Regions from separate parts of the Homo sapiens genome. Here all the other regions are linked to region 4. Evidence: fine-mapped expression QTL. A gene starts in region 4. Each other region holds a variant in brackets. All regions are shown on one strand. Distances are between the middles of the regions.

Evidence for each region.
Region 1: its variant is fine-mapped to the expression of ARHGAP24 in whole blood (TOPMed, PIP above 0.99).
Region 2: its variant is fine-mapped to the expression of ARHGAP24 in whole blood (INTERVAL, PIP 0.96).
Region 3: its variant is fine-mapped to the expression of ARHGAP24 in tibial artery (GTEx, PIP above 0.99).

The regions. Positions count from the first base shown.
Region 1 is chr4:85,587,720-85,590,407 of GRCh38, forward strand. All of the region lies in intron 2 of ARHGAP24 (Rho GTPase activating protein 24), which reads left to right. Among named protein-coding and RNA genes, the nearest start is that of ARHGAP24, 110 kb to the left of the region's middle. The variant G/A (reference allele first, on the strand shown) is at 1,563.
Region 2 is chr4:85,627,125-85,629,812 of GRCh38, forward strand. The region is part of intron 2 of ARHGAP24 (Rho GTPase activating protein 24); the gene reads left to right. Among named protein-coding and RNA genes, the nearest start is that of MIR4451, 94 kb to the right of the region's middle. The variant C/T (reference allele first, on the strand shown) is at 1,346.
Region 3 is chr4:85,796,694-85,799,381 of GRCh38, forward strand. All of the region lies in intron 3 of ARHGAP24 (Rho GTPase activating protein 24), which reads left to right. Among named protein-coding and RNA genes, the nearest start is that of MIR4451, 76 kb to the left of the region's middle. The variant T/C (reference allele first, on the strand shown) is at 1,319.
Region 4 is chr4:85,473,564-85,476,251 of GRCh38, forward strand. ARHGAP24 (Rho GTPase activating protein 24) reads left to right here and starts at 1,587. Exons shown (of 10, transcript NM_001025616.3): 1 at 1,587-1,996.

The DNA.
Region 1 (2,688 bases), 110 kb after region 4:
GGACTCTTGGCTTCCTTTCTTCTTCATTCCTTCCATCCTTCTTTCCTTCTGCATTTATTCATGAATAGATTTATGCATGTGATATATCCCAGGTATGCTTGATCTAAAACAAGTCACTGCTCTTGTGAAGCTCGATTATGATGGGGGAGACAGCCATTTAACAAGTAAGGAAAGTAACCTACTATGAGGAAAATAGAGAACTAGACAGACAATACTGGTGCAGTGGTGGTCATGATAGTAGGGCCTATTTAGACAGAAAGGAAGGGAAGGTCACATTTAAATTGAGATCTAAAGAAGAAAGAAGACTGTCATGCAAAGAGAAGGAAGGAAGGATATGCTGGGCTGAGGGGATAACATGCAGAGGGAAAACAGGCCTGTGGGCTGGTAACCTCATCACCAAGGGATTTCTCAGTCATCCCTGCCTTTATCTTGAACACACTGTCAGCCTCACCAAGAGGCAGAGTTGCTTTTCTTGATCAGCCAGTCACTAAATGCTATGCATGCACATGATTGGGTTCTTCACAGAAGCCTGCTGTTGCTTTTTAATTGTTGACGTTTTGTGCTTGCTAAATGCTTCTTGCTGCCTTTTAATGTAATAGTTTTCATTTGTTGTTTTAAGAGAAAATAAAAGCATGTTTCATGCCTTTCTGCCCTTCCATGATTCCCTTCTTCATTCTCTGCCCAGCCTGGAGGATGGGGGTGGAAATTAGTGGCTTTCTCATCTGAATTCTGAGTCCTGCAAATATCTGTTTGATAGCACTTTTCATGTAAGGTCGCTATTAGCTCGCCTGTCTTATTGTGACCCCTTGAGTCCAGGGACCCTCTCATATAGCACATTGTGTGCACACAGTATGCACTCAATTAATGTCTATGGACTGAAGAAGTACCATAAATTCATTTTGGACGTGGGCATCTGATTCTTTAAAGTGTAATGATGATAAGAAATTCATTACAGAGAAGTATATATTATTGACTTCTACTTTTCTTTCTGAGATAGTTTTAAATAAGTAATTAAGAGTTTAAAATAAACAAAATTTTTATTTGATTTCTAAGATTTCAACAATTTTAGTATTTTATTATCAATACAAAGTTTCTAACATGCATAGGAAGAGTATGAAGACAGTTATTGTTGAAGACTTTGTACCCTGAATACTAAACCACTCTTTCTGCTCCATGAAGTTTCTAATTTAATGTTGAACTGACTTGAAATGGAGAAGCATAAAAAGTTGGCTCCTCTCTAAAGGCCATCAGATAATATTCTCAGAGGTAAATCACCTGCAAGGTGAAACTTGTAGGTGAAGACAACTTTGTAAAATAAATTGCATTGGGCCTCAGAGATGTGGGCATATAATGAATAGAGATTCTGTAAACTTCACCACCTCCTTATAGTTTTGCAGAGTGAAGCTTCTGTGGGTATTTGCATGTAGGTGAATTATGTCTGATAACAAACAGAATTGTGATCTGGCCGATGTCAGAGTCCTAGCAGTGGATTTTAGTCCTAACTGCCACCTAAAGCCTGGCCAGTTAATGACTCTGGATCCTCATTTTCTCATCTTAAACCA[G/A]TAGAAGATTGCATTGGGTTGACATCTAATGTTTCTTTTAGCTTGAAATTTTGATAGTTCTTGAAATGTGTATTTTATTCATATGTCATTCATTATTTTAGCCTTTTAACACACATATACAAAACTAAAACAAACAAAAAACACAACTTGCCAGAGGATAGGAGATGGTAGGACTGATTGACTTGACTAGGGACAGGAATTTTTATTTGTTACAATTAATATTTGAGTAAGTTCTTTTTCTCATGTAATCATGGTAGTGACCATTTTGGGACCATGCCTGAAAACTTACTAGGTAATTAATGAGTCTGGTTCCTGTTAATATCTTCTACATCTCCGGCCAGAGATATATTTTTTGTTTCCTTCGCTTCCCAATATCAAGCTATCCTTTGGGTCCTTTCTTTTGAAACTAATAATTCCTCTTGGGATATAGCTAGAGAGATCTCTTTGGCTGGAGCATCTGCCATTAGGTCAAAATACTTTAATAAATATGTGCAGTACATACTAATCCTATATGTTAAAGAATTCTTTCAAAATAGATTCAAGAGTTTAAAAATAAAATATGGATTTTTTATTTTACAAAATAATTCCTTCTTAATTATAAGTCTGGAAGTTGGATCTGATATTTTTCAAAGCCATTGCTGCACATTGCAAATTTTCATGCCATCCACATTTTTGTTTGACTAATTACTAATATGTGCATTTTGCATGTTAATTTAGATTATCCCTCTTTTAGAAGAAAAGGAAATTGTTCTTAAAGTAATACTTACTGTGTAATCACAAGACAGTGAATTCGTAACACAAAGATGCTAATGTTTAGCAAATGATTGTTTAATGTAAATGAAATGTTAATTTGTTTGGAATGAGAAAACTAACTTTCTTTCTGCCTGCCTGCCTGCCTGCCTGCCTGCCTGCCTTCCTTCCTTCCTTCCTTCCTTCCTTCCTTCCTTCCTTCCTTCCTTCCTCCCACCTCCCTCCATCCCTCCATCCCTCCCACCCTTCCTTCCTTCCTTCTTTCCTTCCCTTCCCTTCCTTTCCTTTTTTTCTCCCTTTCTTCTTTCCTCCTTTTTATTTTTTATTTTATTTTATTTTATTTTTTGAGATGGAGTCTCGCTCTGTCGCCCAGGCT
Region 2 (2,688 bases), 150 kb after region 4:
TTCCTTTGGAGGAGGAGAGGCCTTCTGATTTTTAGAGTTTTGAGTTTTTCTGCTCTGTTTTTTCCCCATCTTTGTGGTTTTATCTACCTTTGGTCTTTGATGATGGTGACGTACAGATGGGTTTTTGGTGTGAATGTCCTTTCTTTTTGTTAGTTTTCCTTCTAACAGACAGGACCCTCAGCTGCAGGTCTGTTGGAGTTTTCTAGAGGTCCACTCCAGACCCTGTTTGCCTGGGTATCATTAGCGGTGGCTGCAGAACATTGTATATTGGTGAACCTCAAATGCTGTTGCCTGATCATTCCTCTGGAAGTTTTGTCTCAGAGGAGTACCCGGCCGTGTGAGGTGTCAGTCTGCACCTACTGGTTGGTGCCTCCCAGTTAGGCTCCTCAGTGGTCAGGGAGCCACTTGAGGAGGCAGTCTGCCTGTTCTCAGATCTCAAGCTGCGTGCTGGGAGAACCACTACTCTCTTCAAAGCTGTCAGAGAGGGACATTTAAGTCTGCAGAGGTTACTGCTGTCTTTTTGTCTGTGCCCTGCCCCCAGAAGTGGAGCCTACAGACGCAGGCAGGCCTCCTTGAGCTGTGGTGGGCTCCACCCAGTTCCAGCTTCCCCGGCTGCTCTGTTTACCTAATCAAACAACTAACTGGGCCATGGCAGGTGCCCTTTCCCCAGCCTGGCTGCCGCCTTGCAGTTTGATCTTGGACTGCTGTGCTAGCAATGAGTGAGACTCCGTGGGCGTAGGACCCTCCGAGCCAGGTGCGGGATATAATCTCCTGGTGTGCCGTTTTTTAAGCCCATTGGAAAAGCGCAGTATTAGGGTGGGAGTGACCCGATTTTCCAGGTGCCGTCTATCACCCCTGTCTTTGACTAGGAAAGGGAATTCGCTGACCCCTTGCGCTTCCCAGGTGAGGTGATGCCTCGCCCTGCTTCGGCTTGCACATGGTGTGCCGCACCCACTTTCCTGCACCTACTGTCTGGCACTCCCCGGTGAGATGAACCCGGTACCTCAATTGGAAATGCAGAAATCACCCATCTTCTGCGTCGCTCACACTGGGAGCTATAGACCGGAGCTGTTCCTATTTGACCATCTTGGCTCCTCCCCCTTAATTTCTTCTTTGACTATTGATTGTTCAGGAGCATGTTGTTTAGTTTTTCTGTATCAGAATTTTCTGAAATTTCTCCTGTCATTGATTTCTAATTTCATATTATTGCAGCTGGAAAACATGCTTGATATGATTTCAGTCTTCTTAAATTTGTTGTCTCAATTTGTGGGCTAATATATTCTATTGTGGATAATGTTCCATGCATGCTTGAAAAAGAATATGTTGGTGTTGGATGGAAGGAATA[C/T]GGCTACTGTTGGATGGGATATTCTGTATCTATCTGATAGGTTCATTTTATCTGTGGCGGTGTTCACATCCACTGTTTCCTCACTGATTTTCTGTCTGGATAATCTGCCCATTATTGGTAGTGGGGTACTGAAATCCTCTATGATTATTGTATTGCTGTCTATTTATCTCTTCAGTTCTCTTACCATTTGCTTTATTTATTTAGGTGCTCTGATGTTGGCTTTACATGTATTTACAATTATTATGTCTTCTTTGTGAATTGACCCTATAATGACCTTCTTTGTTTCTATGACAGTTTTTGACTTGCATTCTATCTTATCTAATGTAAGTATAGACACTTCTGCTCTCTGGTAATACATTTGCATGAAATATCTTTTCCTTCTTTAATTTTAATCTATATGTGTCTTTAAAGCAAAAGTGAGTTTCTTATAGGCAAGGTATGGTTGGTTGTTGTTATTTATCCATTCAGCTATTCTATGTGTTTTGACTGGAGAATTTAATTCATTTATATTTGAATTTATTATTAATAGGTAACTTTAATTTTTTCCACTTTATAACTTCTTTGTTCTTTCTCTCTTGCTGACTTCCTTTGTGATGTGATGATTCTTTTTGTAGTGGTACGTTTTGATTCTGTTGTCTTTATCTTTTGTGAATACACTGCAGGATTTTTCTTTGTGGTTACCACAAGGCTTACAAAGAACCTCTTATAGTTATAACAGTCTATTGCTAGCTTATAACAAGGGAACTTCAACCACATACAAAAATCTTTATACTTTAATTTCTCCTCCCCTCATGTAGCATGTTATTGGCATCACAGTTTATGTCTTTAATATATTGTGTATCCATTAGCAAATTACTGTAGCTATACTTAATACTTTTGACTTTTAACATTTACACTAAAATCAAGTTATTTATATACTATCTTTATAATAATAGAGTCTTCTGAATTTGACTATATTCATAAATTCATAGTGAATTTTATACTTACATATGTTTTCACATTGTTTGTTAGCATCATTTTGTTTCAACTTGAAGAACTTCCTTTAACATTTCTTGTGAGACTGGTCTAGTAAAAATTAACTCCCATAGTTTTTGTTTGTGTGGGAAATTATATCTCTCCTTTGTTTCTGATGGACAGTCTTGCCAGGTATCTTATTCTTGGTCAGCAGTTTTTTTTATTTGAACAGTTTGAACATATCATCCTACTCTTTTTTAGCCTACAGTGGTTCTGCTGAGAAATCATCTGATCAGGTTTCCTTGAATGTGATGAGTTACTTCTCTCTTACTGCTTTCCAAATTCTATCTTTGTCTTTGACTTTTGAGAATTTGATTATAATATGTCTC
Region 3 (2,688 bases), 320 kb after region 4:
AGATCTAAGGAGCAGCCACTACTTCTGTCGGGGGGAATTGAGCACCCAAGGAAAAGCTCATACCCGAGGCTGAGATCCAGAGCTCTCTGGAGACGCTATGGCCTTGACTCACTAGACCTCACGGTGGTGCTGTGCCCATAGAATTTTCTGCCAAGTCCTCCTTCATTTCATGCTTGAAATTAGCCCTCCAGAGTGCCAGAAAAATTCATGTGGAGGTATCTCACTAGAGGACTCTGCTACGAAACTGCTTTGTGAGGAGGGACTGCAGAAGCTGGGCACTGAGGAAGGTGTGTACACTGGAGGGGCTGGGTGCTGGAGAAGCTGCCTGTGCTGCAGGAGCCTGCGGAGCCAGCATACAGGCTCTAGGAAGCAAAATCCCATTTTCTTCTGCAGTGTCTCTCTATCGCCCTCTACTGATGATAGAGTTTAGCATGGTAGCAGCTGGGAAAGGAAAAAAAATTTTTTTTGTTTTTTTTTTTGTTTTTGTTTTTGTTTTTTGAGATGAGTCTTGCTCTGTTGCCCAGGCTGGAGTGCAGTGGCGCAATCTCGGCTCACTGCAAGCTCCGCCTCCCGGGTTCACGCCATTCTCCTGCCTCAGCCTCCCCAGCAGCTGGGACTACAGGCGCCCGCCACCACGCCCAGCTAATTTTTTTGTATTTTTAGTAGAGACAGGATTTCACCGTGTTAGCCAGGATGGTCTCAATCTCCTGACCTTGTGATCCACCCGCCTCGGCCTCCCAAAGTGCTGGGATTACAGGCGTGAGCCACTGCGCCCGGCCGGCAAAGGAAACATTTTTAAAGGGACATATCCATTTTCACAGAGCAGGCAAAAGGATTAATTTATAGCTAAGGTGGACTGATCTAAATATTCAAATGATGTTAGCAGGATTTGCTTTTTCTCCATTTCTCAGCATTGCTTTCTTCTGGGTAGTTTCATTCTAGGCTGGCTGCCTCCATATTATGGTATGAAGAATTCAGCAGAACAAAATTTCTCTTCTTGTCAATTGTCACAAAAATCCCAGAAGTTAGTATGTTGACTCTAATTAGCCTGAATTGTGCCACATGGCATCCCCAAAGCCAGAAGATGTGTTATTATTTTTGACCTCATTAGATATTATGCTTTCCCAACCCTGCCCTCCTCAGAATGCCATTATCAGACTAAAGTAATTATTTCGGAGGGGAAAGGAGGGGGGCAAAACAACCTTGAATAAATAGAGACACAATATCTGAAGAGCAAAACTACAGAATTTACTGCATGCCTTAAATGCCTTATATCCTGTTGGGCTTTATTTTTAAAATCATTTTACAAGGTTCTAGA[T/C]CATAAAAGGAAATTAAAGTCATCCAGCTTAGTCAAATCCCTTGAGTTTACTACTAAAAAAGGAAATTCAATGTTTGTGGTTTCAAACCTAGAATTTCTGTTAAAACTGAATCAAAAAGTTGCAAGATATAACTTCTTTTTTAATGATGAGGGGCCCCATCTACTTAACTAAACATATTCCCCGAGCAATAGTGGTATGCCTGTGTCATCTGATATAACTCAACAATTTGGATGGAACCCAAGGCATTATGCTCAGTGAAAAGCATATCTCAAATGGCAACCTACAGAATGATTACATTTCATATAAAATTCTTAGAAATGGCAGAATTATAGTGATGGAGAACTAATCTGTGAGTGCCAAGAGTTGGGACTGGGGAGAGAGTGTGACTATAAAGGAGCAAGAAGGAGCTTTTTGGAGTGATCAGACAGTTGTGTGTCCTGATTACCATAGTGGTTTCACAAATCAATATGTATGACAAAATTCCACAGGACTGTACACCTCCCCACAATGCAAAAAACATGAGTGCATGTAAAAACTTGCAAAACTCCAATAAGGTCTGAGTTTAGTTAATAGTATTGTGCAAGTGTGAATTATGTAATACTGGTTTTGCTCATTTTACTATAGTTTCCAAAGATGTTATCTGTAGGGGAAGCTACCGAAGTTACAGAATAAATTTTTGTACTATTTTTGCAACTTCTAAATGAGGGTAAAATTATTTCAAAATAAAGTTGGCAAAAATGATAGTTAAAAATTGTAGCAAATTGAGGGAGATTTTCTGGTAAGAATCGGGAAACAAAGTTCTTTTTAATTTTTTGATTTTTTCATAGCAAACAAAAAAGTATTAATAATTAGCTTGGATATAGAAGAAATAAAATGGGTGCTTACACTATTCTAAAAATGAAAGATATTTTAATAATATTAGGCTTTAAAAGCAAAGAAAACAATTACAAAAATGCATGCAAATAAAGAGGACAGAAAATTAGAAAATTAGTATGAACCACCCTATGGTACTGAAGTCAGAGATATTAACATGGAATAATTTTTTAAAATATATGCTGAGAATTGTATGTGTGCACATGAATTAGCATAACATGCATATATTTCCTAGCTGTATACACTGAGAGAGGCTGCAAAGTGTGAGGCCCCAGTAACAGTGAGCACACTTAATGTCCAGATTTTGGTTTCTAAACATCATCTTTCAAAAAACAATAACTAGAATGCCTTGGAGAGTTCATTGATTCCAGGGCAGGTGCAGAGAATCTGGGACACCTTGTGTACCAGATTTTAAGGATTTGCTAAGAAAAAAAAACAAAAAACAAAAACAGTGGCATATTGAAAGGGCCCACTAACCAACTTGAAAGAGCTTCTA
Region 4 (2,688 bases):
CTGAGGCTTTTGAGTCCATCAAATGTGTGCAAATTTCATTTGGGTTAATGTTATTTTCCAGCTTTCATCTGAAACTGCCCATCAGCATTCACCTGCTAGGGTGTTGCTAGAACATGTAAGGCCATGTGGGTTGATGAAGGTAATTTATTCCCACCAATTGGAAAATAAGCTACATTACTTCTAGCTTAGGAATTCCATACATATTTTTAAAATGAAATATGAAACGCAATTTTTTCCCCACACAAATTAATTTGATTCATTAAAGGGCTGAGAATTCTCCCACCAGAAAATCAAGTTTATAGTAGGACCTCAGCATGGGATGGGGTAGATTCGTTTCTCCAAGAACTTGGAGAAAGAGGACAAAAAGGAAAAACATATCAGTGTCCACTCAGCCTTTTATTTTTGGTGTTTCTAAAACTAAACATTTGCTCTTCTTCCATATCCCTCTCTCACTGGAGATCCCTAGTGAGGACACCCCCATTCTGTGTCTTAAGGATATCTGGTGATGATTTCTAAAAGAGAGTTTCTTTTATTAGTAGTAGCAGTAGTAATTGTTCGAGACGGGGGTGTCACTCCGTCACCTAGGCTGGAGTGCGCTGGCACAATTATAGCTCACTGCAGCCTTGACCTCCTGGGCTCAAGGGATTTTCCCGCTTCAGCCTCCTGAGTAGCTGGGACTACAGACATACGCCGCCACGCCCAACTTTTTTTTTATTTTTTTAATTTTTTTTTTATAGAGACAGGAGTCTCATTATGTTGCCAATTTTGGTCTGAAACCCCTGGGCTCAAGCGATCCTCCTGCCTCAGCCTTCCAAAGTGCTAGGATTGCATGACTGATCCACTGTAAGTGGGTTTCTAAAACAGAGATCTTTACAAAGCTTTTTGAAATAATTTGACTCAGCATGCCAGGTAACCAGAACTGTAAGATCACAATTTGAAACAGACATTGTGGTGATGGTGGGAAGAGACGGCCTGCATCAAAACAATGTTTACTAGTTTGTCCTTTTGTCCCATATTGTGTAACTCCGAGAGTTCTTACACCACCGTAAGAAAGTAATTATACTTTGAATTTCTCTAAGGCTCTAGTTAGAGAGCATCCATCTAAATGTGCATTTCCAGGAATATTGCTTTAATGGCCCAGGTAATTCTAATTGGAGAAATAAAATGTTAGCGAGACAGAGTTGGTAGAAGCAAGTAAAACCGGTGTATGGGGTTTGGCCAATGAAATGCAGAGCTCCTTGAGGGCAGGAGACATGTATTCACCAACCTTCTCGCGCCCACAGCCCCAGATCTGTGGCCAACAAGTATCTATGATGCACTTGAAAGGAACGAGCGATGCCAGATGCGGAGGAACCAGGCAGGGCGCATTCTGTCAGTGGCGCCAGGCGGTGTAGCTCCAGCTCTCAGATAACCCAGGCTTTGGGAGGGCGGGGCTCCTGCCGGCCTCCCCTGTAGTGCGGCTCGAGTCCTGTGAAGCTACCAGTTGCCAAATGAAATCTGAAACCTCGAGCTGTGTCTGAGGGTTGGCCCCACTCAGTTGTTCCAGCCTCTTGTACTGTATATTTACACATTCACACACAATCACCCTTTCTAACTTCTGGGACTCTTTGCGCAACTGCTAGGATTTCTCAAGTGCATGTGGCAACACAGCCCAGCTCCGGGTGGAAACCAGCAGGGCTCTGGAGGGGCTCGGAGACCAGGGGAGCTGTCAAGGCTGCGGCGGGGACCAGAGAGGAGCCTGGCGGGGGTGGCTGGGTGGCTGGGGGAATCCCCCCAACTTCCCATCGCAGGCGCAGCTCTCTCGGCCGCCTATTTCCTCCGAAACCCGCGCTGCGGAGCAGCCCAGTGCATAGAGTTCAACACTTCCCCTTGTTGTGGAAAGTAAAGGAGCCTCACTACCACCTTTTTTTCTTTGCGTTTTCTTACTGCTGGTCCTGGGAGCCTTTTCCTTCGGAGCAGCAGCCCTGTCCGGCATCTGTCTTGAGCTCCCAGCAAGGTAGGTGATGCGGTCGCGAGGAAGTGCGCGGAGCTACCGCGGGAAGGACGGACGCGGCTGCCTGCGCCAGGGGAGGGGGCTGCGGGGGGCGGGGAGGGGGCTGCGGGGGGCGGGGAGGGGGCTGCGGGGGGCGGGGAGGGGGCTGCGGGGGGCGGGGAGGGGGCTGCGGGGGGCGGGGAGGGATCGCAGGAATCCCGTGCTGATGTAGCCTGTCTGTGTTTGTGTGTGTGTGTGCGCGCGCGCGCATGTTTGTGCCGGGAGACAGCAAGCTGGTAGTATGTCTTTCTGGCTTTAAAAATAGATGGAATTAATAAAAACCCTTTGTACAATTCAATTTCCTCTCTTGGTATCCATCCTCCCCTTCCCCTTGTTTGTTTCCTCTAGTATCTTATAGGAGTTCCCTATGTAACAGGCGCACAAAGATAGGTTTTAATAATAAGCATATATATTTGCAAAAATATATATTTTATATGTATAAAATATGTTTTAAAATATTTATAAATATATTACATATTAGAAATATATATTATAAAATATATACATATATTTGTAAACACAAAACGTTAGGGAATCTTTGGTGAATTTGAAGCCACTCAAAAGATTTTGTCCAAATGTTTTTAAAAATAACATTTAATGATAAACATGTAATATGGTCTCGTTTTTAGAAAATACTTAAGACTACATTTATTTTA